Regions from separate parts of the Homo sapiens genome. Here region 2 is linked to region 1. The links come from fine-mapping of genetic effects on gene expression. A gene starts in region 1. The other region holds a variant in brackets. All regions are shown on one strand. Distances are between the middles of the regions.

What was found. PIP is the estimated chance that this variant, and not a neighbour inherited with it, causes the effect. A credible set is the group of variants that fine-mapping cannot tell apart.
Region 2: its variant is the best candidate, but not a certain one, in a credible set for the expression of MRFAP1L2 in whole blood (Lepik 2017, PIP 0.60).

Annotation. Positions count from the first base shown.
Region 1 is chr4:6,672,306-6,676,305 of GRCh38, reverse strand. It overlaps MRFAP1L2 (Morf4 family associated protein 1 like 2), which reads right to left and starts at 2,231. Exons shown (of 1, transcript NM_138699.3): 1 at 259-2,231. The coding sequence starts at 2,093. The coding sequence ends at 1,734. LINC02482 (long intergenic non-protein coding RNA 2482) reads left to right here and starts at 2,425. Exons shown (of 2, transcript NR_134665.1): 1 at 2,425-2,622. RefSeq lists a silencer at 1,927-2,156 and an enhancer at 2,629-3,237.
Region 2 is chr4:6,651,442-6,655,963 of GRCh38, reverse strand. No RefSeq gene overlaps it. Among named protein-coding and RNA genes, the nearest start is that of MRFAP1, 13 kb to the right of the region's middle. The variant C/T (reference allele first, on the strand shown) is at 1,981.

The DNA of each region.
Region 1 (4,000 bases):
GTCTCTCCAAGAAATTCCTAGTGCCTGGCATAGTGTGGAGCTCTGTGGTCACAGTGAACACTAGCTGCCTGAATGGACTTCACCTCTCCAAAGGCTGGGGCCAGACCATATGGCTTCATGAGGCACCCCTTTCCTACTCTAGGTCTGCCTTCTTCTTCTTCTGCAGCTCAAACCCCACCCTGGGCTACAGGCTTTGAACAACTCGTGAGTCAGAAGCAATTCTCCTCCATTTGACAGTGACCACTATCAAGGAGAAACTCATTTTGAAAAATGTTTATTTACCTTACCTTTTCTTGGCCAAGTCAATTGCTTTGGTCATCTGCACAAAGATTCTAAACACTGGCTTTCAGCATTTCTTTTTCCAAGCAAATGAAATTTATCATAACAAGACAGAGCTCTGATTTTAGTCTCTGTGGAGTCTGGGCTCTGATGACCTAGGCTAGTCATCATCTAAGCCTGGAATGACTGTTTGGGACCCCCATGGCCAGCTTGAAGCTTTCCTTCCTCAGCCACTCTGGGCCCCTGAAGAGGTCACATGCATCTGTGGCAGAGACTGTATTATAACAAAGTTGTTTACCCCAAAGTCAGCAAACACATGTACCTAGAACTCATCCCAATTGTAGGTTGCTCACCAGACAGGTTACACGATGTGCACCAGTTAACATGCCATAGGAAAATTACATTCCAAGAAAAAGCAAAATGCTATAAAAACAAAAAAAACAAAACACCCAAAACAGCTCTCCCTCCTTTGATCTGATGGTCTGCAGAGGTCCTCAAATCCACACACTGCCACTCTTCAAGACCAACCGTCCACTGGGCCTTCTTAATCTCATCCAAAGTCGCATTCACAACTTTGACAGGAGCTTGGGTTCTTCATGTGGCAGCTGCAACCATGTAGTGTCTTCTCACTTGCAGAACTCTAACCTCAAGTCTCTCATGAGTCCCCAAATTCCAGGAAGCATAAAAAAACAGCAAAGCACACGAGTATACTTCCAAACTTTGAAAATACAATAAGATCACAGGAACAAATATGACCACGCAGCAGCGTACGTACTGTATAGGCCATATTCCTTTACGTGGGACATTAATGAAAAGCTGTCTTTTCCAAACTGAATGCGCCTATTAATAAAAAAATACACCTGACCATCTAATGCTGAAGTCATCCGCCAGGATGGTACTGGAAATTGAGTGGCTAATGTGGAGAAAACGCAGGCAGAAAAACAGGGGAGACAAAACGAAAGGCTCTCTTGGTTTGAGCCTGTCCAAGCAGCCACGACTCCTTATCAGGTGAACACAGTTCGTCAGTTGGCCACCTAAAGTACAAGTGGGAGAAATTCATCATCACAACATAAATTTTGAGCTTGATATTCTCATATCCGGGAGTCAAACAAACCCAACCACCTGTGCACAATGCTTCCACCTGCAGGAAGGTCATCGCAAACGCTCCAATCTCGTAACAACATTCACACGTTTCCAGCATGTACCTCCGCTTCACACCTCTCTCCCCCCACGTAGTGACCCACCAGGTCTACGTCCTGAAAATACTTCCAGTGGTCATGACTCTTTACAACAACATATCAAATTATTTTCTCTAATTACCTATGAAAAAAGAATGAAACCAACTCCGCGGAGAGCGTGGCACGGCTCTGCGCTCCCCTCCCTGCCTACCCAGCGCCTTCCACGCGGGACACTCCCCGCCGCGCTCCGCTCCAGACCCGCGCGGCCTCGCCGGCTCAGCAGCACTCGCAGCCGGCGATCCGCTGGTGCAGCTCCACGATCCGCCTGCCCATCCGCGCCGCCTCCGCAGCCTTCCTCTCTGCTTCGGCGCACAGCCGAGCCACCCGCTCCTCAGCCTCCGCACGCGGGCGGGGTGCTGGGGCCCGGGCGCCCCGCTCCTCTGCCTCCACCTCACTCTTGATGGCGTCGAGCAGGCTCTGGATCTCCAGCAGCTTCCTGCGGGCCCGCCAGTGCGCCCGGGCGCGCTCGCGCTCCAGGGAGGCCAGGTTCTCGCGGCCGGCGCGGGGCGCGGGGCTCAGCGGGCTGCCCGGCTCCTCGCGGGGCTCCCGCGCCTCGTCCGCGTCCACGGGCCGCATCACGCCGCCGCCTCTTCCAGCCCGCGGGGCACGCCGGGGCTGCTCACCAGCAGCGAGCGCGGAAGCCTCGCTGTCACCAACGACCAGACTAGCAACAGGTTGCCCCAACTTTCCGCAGCGAGGACGGTATCCAAAATGGGCTACTAGCCGTCGGCCAGGACGCTGCCACTGCGGCCCTTTTACGACACCTGCGGTCCTTTACCGCCACGCAGCAAGCGAGAACCGCATTCGGGGCTCCCGCCTCAGCGGTCCTGCGCGCGCACGCGCACTTGCACGCACGCGTACCCCCCCGCACGCATGCGCACCCCATGTCCCCGCCCGCTGTAGCGCCACAGCTCTTTGGGCGTTGATTCTAGGGTCAGGGCCCTCACTCACACTGCTGGAAGGTTAAAGTCGACTTCACGCTAGTTTAAGGAAATATCTGACGCTGATAACCATGTCCCAAGCACTGCTCTAAGTTCCCAATGTGTCCGGAATTGGTGGGTTCTTGGTCTCACTGACTTCAAGAATGAAGCCACGGACCCTCGCGGTGAGTGTTACAGCTCTTAAAGTGGCGCGTCTGGAGTTTGTTCCTTCTGATGTTCGGATGTGTTCGGAGTTTTTTCCTTCTGGTGGGTTCGTGGTCTCGCCGGCTCAGGAGTGAAACTGCAGACCTGTTACGGCTCATAAAGGCAGTGTGGACCCAAAGAGTGAGCAGCAGCAGGATTTATTGCAAAGAGAGAAAGAACAAAGCTTCCACAATAGAAGGGGACCTGAGCCGGTTGCCACTGCTGGCTCCGGCAGCCTGCTTTTATTGTCTTATCTGGCCCCACCCACATCCTGCTGATTGGTAGAGCCGAGTGGTCTGTTTTGACAGGGTGCTGATTGGTGCGTTTACAATCCCTGAGCTAGACACAAAGGTTCTCCAAGGCCCCAGCAGAGTCGATTGGTATATTCACAAACCCTGAGCTAGACACACGGTGCTGATTGGTGTATTTACAATCCCTGAGCTAGACATAAAGGTTCTCCACATCCCCACCAGACTCAGGAGCCCAGCTGGCTTCACCAAGTGGATCCCACACCAGGGCTGCAGGTGGAGCTGCCTGCGAGAACGGCACCGTGCGCCCACACTCCTCAGCCCTTGGGTGGTGATGGGACTGGGCGCCGTGGAGCAGGGGGTGGTGCTCGTCGAGGAGGCTCGGGCAGCACAGGAGCCCATGGAGGGGGTGGGAGGCTCAGGCATGGCGGGCTGCAGGTCCCGAGCCCTGCCCCTCGGAAAGGCAGCTAAGGCCCGGTGAGAAATCGAGCACAGCGCCGGTGGGCTGGCACTGCTGAGGGACCCAGTACACCCTCCGCAGCCGCTGGCCCGGGTGCTAAGCCCCTCATTGCCGGGGGCTGGCAGGGCCAGCCGGCTGCTCCGAGTGCGGGGCCCACCAAGCCCACGCCCACCCTGAACTCCAGCTGGCCCGCAAGCGCCGTGTGCAGCCCCGGTGCCCGCTCGCGCCTCTCCCTCCACACCTCCCTGCAAGCTGAGAGAGCCGGCTCTGGCCTTGGCCAGCCCAGAAAGGGGCCTCCACAGTGCAGCAGTGGGCTGAAGGGCTCCTCAAGTGCTGCCAAAGTGGGAGCCCAGGCAGAGGAGGCACCGAGAGTGAGCGAGGGCTGTGAGGACTGCCAGCACACTGTCACCTCTCACCAACATTCTAAATCATAAACACCCAGGCCGGGCGTGTGGCTCACGCCTATAATCCCAGCACTTTGGGAGGCTGAGGTGAGAGGATCGCTTGAGCTCAGGAGTTCCATACCAGCCTGGGCAACAAGGGAAAAAACCCTACCAAAAAAAACACAAGAAATTAGCTGGGCGTGGTGGCGCGTGCCGATAGTCCCAGCTACTTGAGAGGCTGAGCCGGGAAGATTGCTTGAGCCCAGCA
Region 2 (4,522 bases), 21 kb after region 1:
TGTGATAATTTGTTGTAGCAGCAGTTGAAAACTTGAAGCTTAGTCTGCAGAAAGTCTAAGGATGGATAAAAATGAATGAAGACCCTCAAAGCCGTGCCCCCACCTTATTATTCTCCTCTGGGTTCTCCTAACCCTAATTCTAACCCTATCTTCTTTTTTTTTTTTTATACTTTAAGTTCTAGGGTATGTGATCACAACTTGCAGGTTTGTTACATATGTATACACGTGCGATGTTGGTGTGCTGCACCCATTAACTCGTCATTTACATTAGGTATATCACCTAATGCTATCCCTCCCCTCTCCCCACCAACCCCACAATAGGCCCCAGTGTGTGATGTTCCCCTTCCTGTGTCCAAGTGTTCTCATTGTTCAATTCCCACCTATAAGTGAGAACATGCGGTGTTTGGTTTTTTGTCCTTGTGATAGTTTGTTGAGAATGATGGTTTCCAGTTTCATCCATGTCCCTACAAAGGACATGAACTCATCCTTTTTTATGGCTGCATAGTATTCCATGGTGTATATGTGCCACATTTTCTTAATCCAGTCTATCATTGATGGACATTTGGGTTGATTCCAAGTCTTTGCTGTTGTGAATAGTGCTGCAATAAACGTATGTGTGCATATGTCTTTATAGCAGCATGATTTATAATCCTTTGGGTATATACCCAGTAATGGGATTGCTGGGTCAAATGATATTTCTAGTTCTAGATCCTTGAGAAATAGCCACACTGTCTTCCACAATGGTTGAACTAGTTTATAGACCCACCAACAGTGTAAAGGTGTTCCTATTTCTCCACATCCTCTCCAGCACCTGTTGTTTCCTGACTTTTTAATGATCGCCATTCTAACCGGTGTGAGATGGTATCTCATTGTGGTTTTGATTTGCATTTCTCTGATGGCCAGTGATGATGAGCATTTTTTCATGTGTCTGTTGGCTGCATAAATGTCTTCTTTTGAGAAGTGTCTGTTCATATCCTTCGCCCACTTTTTGATGGGGTTGTTTGTTTTTTTCTTGTAAATTTGTTTGATTTCTTTGTAGATTCTGGATATTAGCTCTTTGTCAGATGAGTAGATTGCAAAAATTTTTTCCCATCCTGTAGGTTGCCTGTCCACTCTGATGGTAGTTTCTTTTGCTGTGCAGAAGCTCTTTAGTTTAATTAGATCCCATTTGTCAATTTTGGCTTTAGTTGCCATTGCTTTTGGTGTTTTAGACATGAAGTCCTTGCCTATGCCTATGTCCTGAATGGTATTGCCTAGGTTTTCTTCTAGGGTTTTTATGGTTTTAGGTCTAACATTTAAGTCTTTAATACATCTTGAATTAATTTTTGTATAAGGTGTAAGGGAGGGATCCAGTTTCAGCTTTCTCCATATGGCTAGCCAGTTTTCCCAGCACCATTTATTAAATAGGGAATCCTTTCGCCATTTCTTGTTTTTGTCAGGTTTGTCAACGATCAGATGGTTGTAGATGTGTGGTGTTATTTCTGAGGGCTCTGTTCTGTTCCATTGGTCTGTATCTCTGTTTTGGTACCAGTACCATGCTGTTTTGGTTACTGTAGCTTTGTAGTGTAGTTTGAAGTCAGGTAGCGTGATGCCTCCAGCTTTGTTCTTTTGGCTTAGGATTGACTTGGCAATGTGGGCTTTTTTTCTAACCCTATCTTTTTATACATTTTGGTGGATTCTCTTTAATATTTCCTCTAGAGTGTGTGTTGCAAATATCTTCTCCCAATTGAAGCTTGACTATTTTCTTTTAAATGGACTTTATTTTTTAGAACAGTTTTAGGTTTATAGAAAAATCGAGAAGATAGCACAGAATGCAGCTCAACTTTTCACTTTGATGATGGTTCCTTTGATTAGCACCATATTTTAGCTTAAAAATTGACTGCAAAAAAGTAAAATAAATTTATTATAGTAAAATATGCATAGTAGATTTACCATTTAACCATTTAAGGGTACAGTTCAGTGGCAGTAAGTCCATTCAAA[C/T]TGTGCAACCATCACCACCATCTGCCTCAAGAACTTTTTCATCCTCCCAAACTGAAACTTTGTCCCCATTAAACATTAATTCCCCAATCCTCCCTCCCCCAGCCCCTGGCATCCACCATTCTACTTTCTGTCCCATGAATTGGACTGTTCTGGCTTCTTTAAAAATTGAGGTGAAATTAATGTAACATAATTACCCACTTTAAAGTGTACAATTAAGTGGTATTTAGTGTATTCACAATATTGTGTAACCACTAGCTCTCTCTAGTTTCAAAACTTTCTCATCTTTCTATAAAAATACCCAGTACTCAAGGCCAGGTGCGGTGGCTCACGCCTGTAATCCCAGCACTTTTAGAGGCCGAGGTGGGCCGATCACAAGGTCAGGAGTTCAGGACCAGACTGGCCAACGTGGTGAAACCCCGTCTCTACTTAAAATACAAAAATCAGCCAGTCGTGGTGGCGGGTGCCTATAATTCCAGCTACTTGGGAGGCTGAGGCAGGAGAATCGCTTGAACCTGGGAGGCGGAGGTTGCAGGGAGCCAAGATTGCATCATTGCACTCCAGCCTGGGCGACAGAGTGAGACTCCATCTCAAAAAAACAAAACAAAACAAAACCCAGTACTCATATAATAATCACTCCACATCCTGCCTCCCCTTACCCAATGGCCAATACTCATCTCCTTTCTGTCTCTGTGGATTTACCTGTCTGTACATATCATATGTGTTAGTCTGCTAGGGCTGCCGTAACAGAATACCACAGACTGGGTGTTTAAAACAACAAAAATCTACTTTCTCATGATTCTGGAGCCTGAAAGTTCAAGATCATGGTGCCAGCAGGGTTGGCTTCTCCTGAGGCCTCTCTCCCTGGCTTGAAGATGGCCTTTTCTTTTTCTTTCTTTCTTTCTTTCTTTTTTTTTTTTTTTAGACAAAGTCTGACTGTGTCACCCAGGCTGGAGTGCAGTGGTATGATCTTGGCTCACTGCAACCTCCGCCTCCCAGGTTCAAGCGATTCTCGTGCCTCAGCCTCCTGAGTACCTGGGACTACAGGCATGCCCCACCACACCAGCTAATTTTTGTATTTTAAGTAGAGACGGGGTTTCTCCATGTTGGCCAGGATGGTCTTGAACTCCTGACATCAGGTGATCTGCTGCCTCAGCCTCCCAAAGTGCTGGGATTACAGGCGTGAGCCACTGTGCCTGGCTATACTTTGTTAATTTTTATGGCTGAATAATATTTCTTTGTATGGCTATTCCGCAGTTTATGAATGAATGTTTATTCATTCATCAGTTGATTCTGTTGGTGGCCATTTGGGTTGTTTCTGCCTTTTGACTAGTATATGCTGCCATCAGCATTCATGTATAAGTTAAGATTTTAGTTTTGGTGAAGACAAAATATCAGTCTTTTCTGCTTTTTGCTTTTTGTCTTGTAAAGAAAGCCTTTCATGCTCTGAAGCCATACAAATTTTCCTTTAAGTTCTCTAAAGTATTTAGTTAGATAATTAGTTTTTTATATCTGTGGGTTACTCCATCTGAAAATAATTTTTTTGTGATGTTTGTGGCAGGGATCTAATTGCAGTTTCCCCCACATGTATAGCCATTTGTCCTAGCCCTACATGGTGACTGTTTTTGTTGTTGGTGGTGGTTTTTTTTTTTTTTTTTTTTTTTTGAGTCTTGCTGTGTCACCAGCCTGGTGAGATCTTGGCTCACTGCAATTTCCACCTCCCGGGTTCAAGCGATTCCCCTGCCTCAGCCTCCCAAGTAGCTGGGACTACAGGCATGTGCCACCATGCCCAGCTAATTTTTTGTATCTTAGTAGAGACGGAGTTTCACCACGTTGGCCAGGATGGTCTTGATCTGCTGACCTCGTGATCCGCCCGCCTCGGCCTCCCAAAGTGCTGGGATTACAGGCGTGAGCTACCGCGGTGGGCCCATGCTGACTGTTTTATCCATTCTTTCTGGGTTGCTGTGTAACGTGTGTCAGGTATCGTATGTCCATATTTGCTCATATCTGTATCTGGGCTGTATACTCTGTTCCACTGGTCTTTACCTATCTCTGGGCCATTACTCCATTGACTTAATTACTGTTAGCTTTATAATAAATATTAATATTTGGTAAAGTATAGCAAGGCCTCCCATCTGGTGCTACTGCAGGAATATCCTGGCTTTCTGCTTGTCCATCTAAATTTCAAATTTGTGAGTTCCCTGTGCTCCTCCCCACACCCACCAGACTCAAGAGATCTCCTGCCTCAGCCTCCAGAGTAGCTGGAATTACAGGTATTTGCCACCACATGCAGCTAATTTTTAAATTTTTTGTAGAGACTAGGTTTTGCCATGTTGCCCAGGCTGATCTTGAACTCCTGGGCTCAAGTGATATGCCTGCCTCCACCTCCCAAAGTGCTGGGATTACAAGTGTGAGCCATTATGCCCAGCCAAATTCATGGTTTTTATTTTTATTTTAGTTTTAGAGACAGGGCCTTGCTCTGTTGCCCAGGCTGGAGTGCAGTAGTGCAATCATAGCTCACTCCAGCCTGGAACTCCCAGGCTCA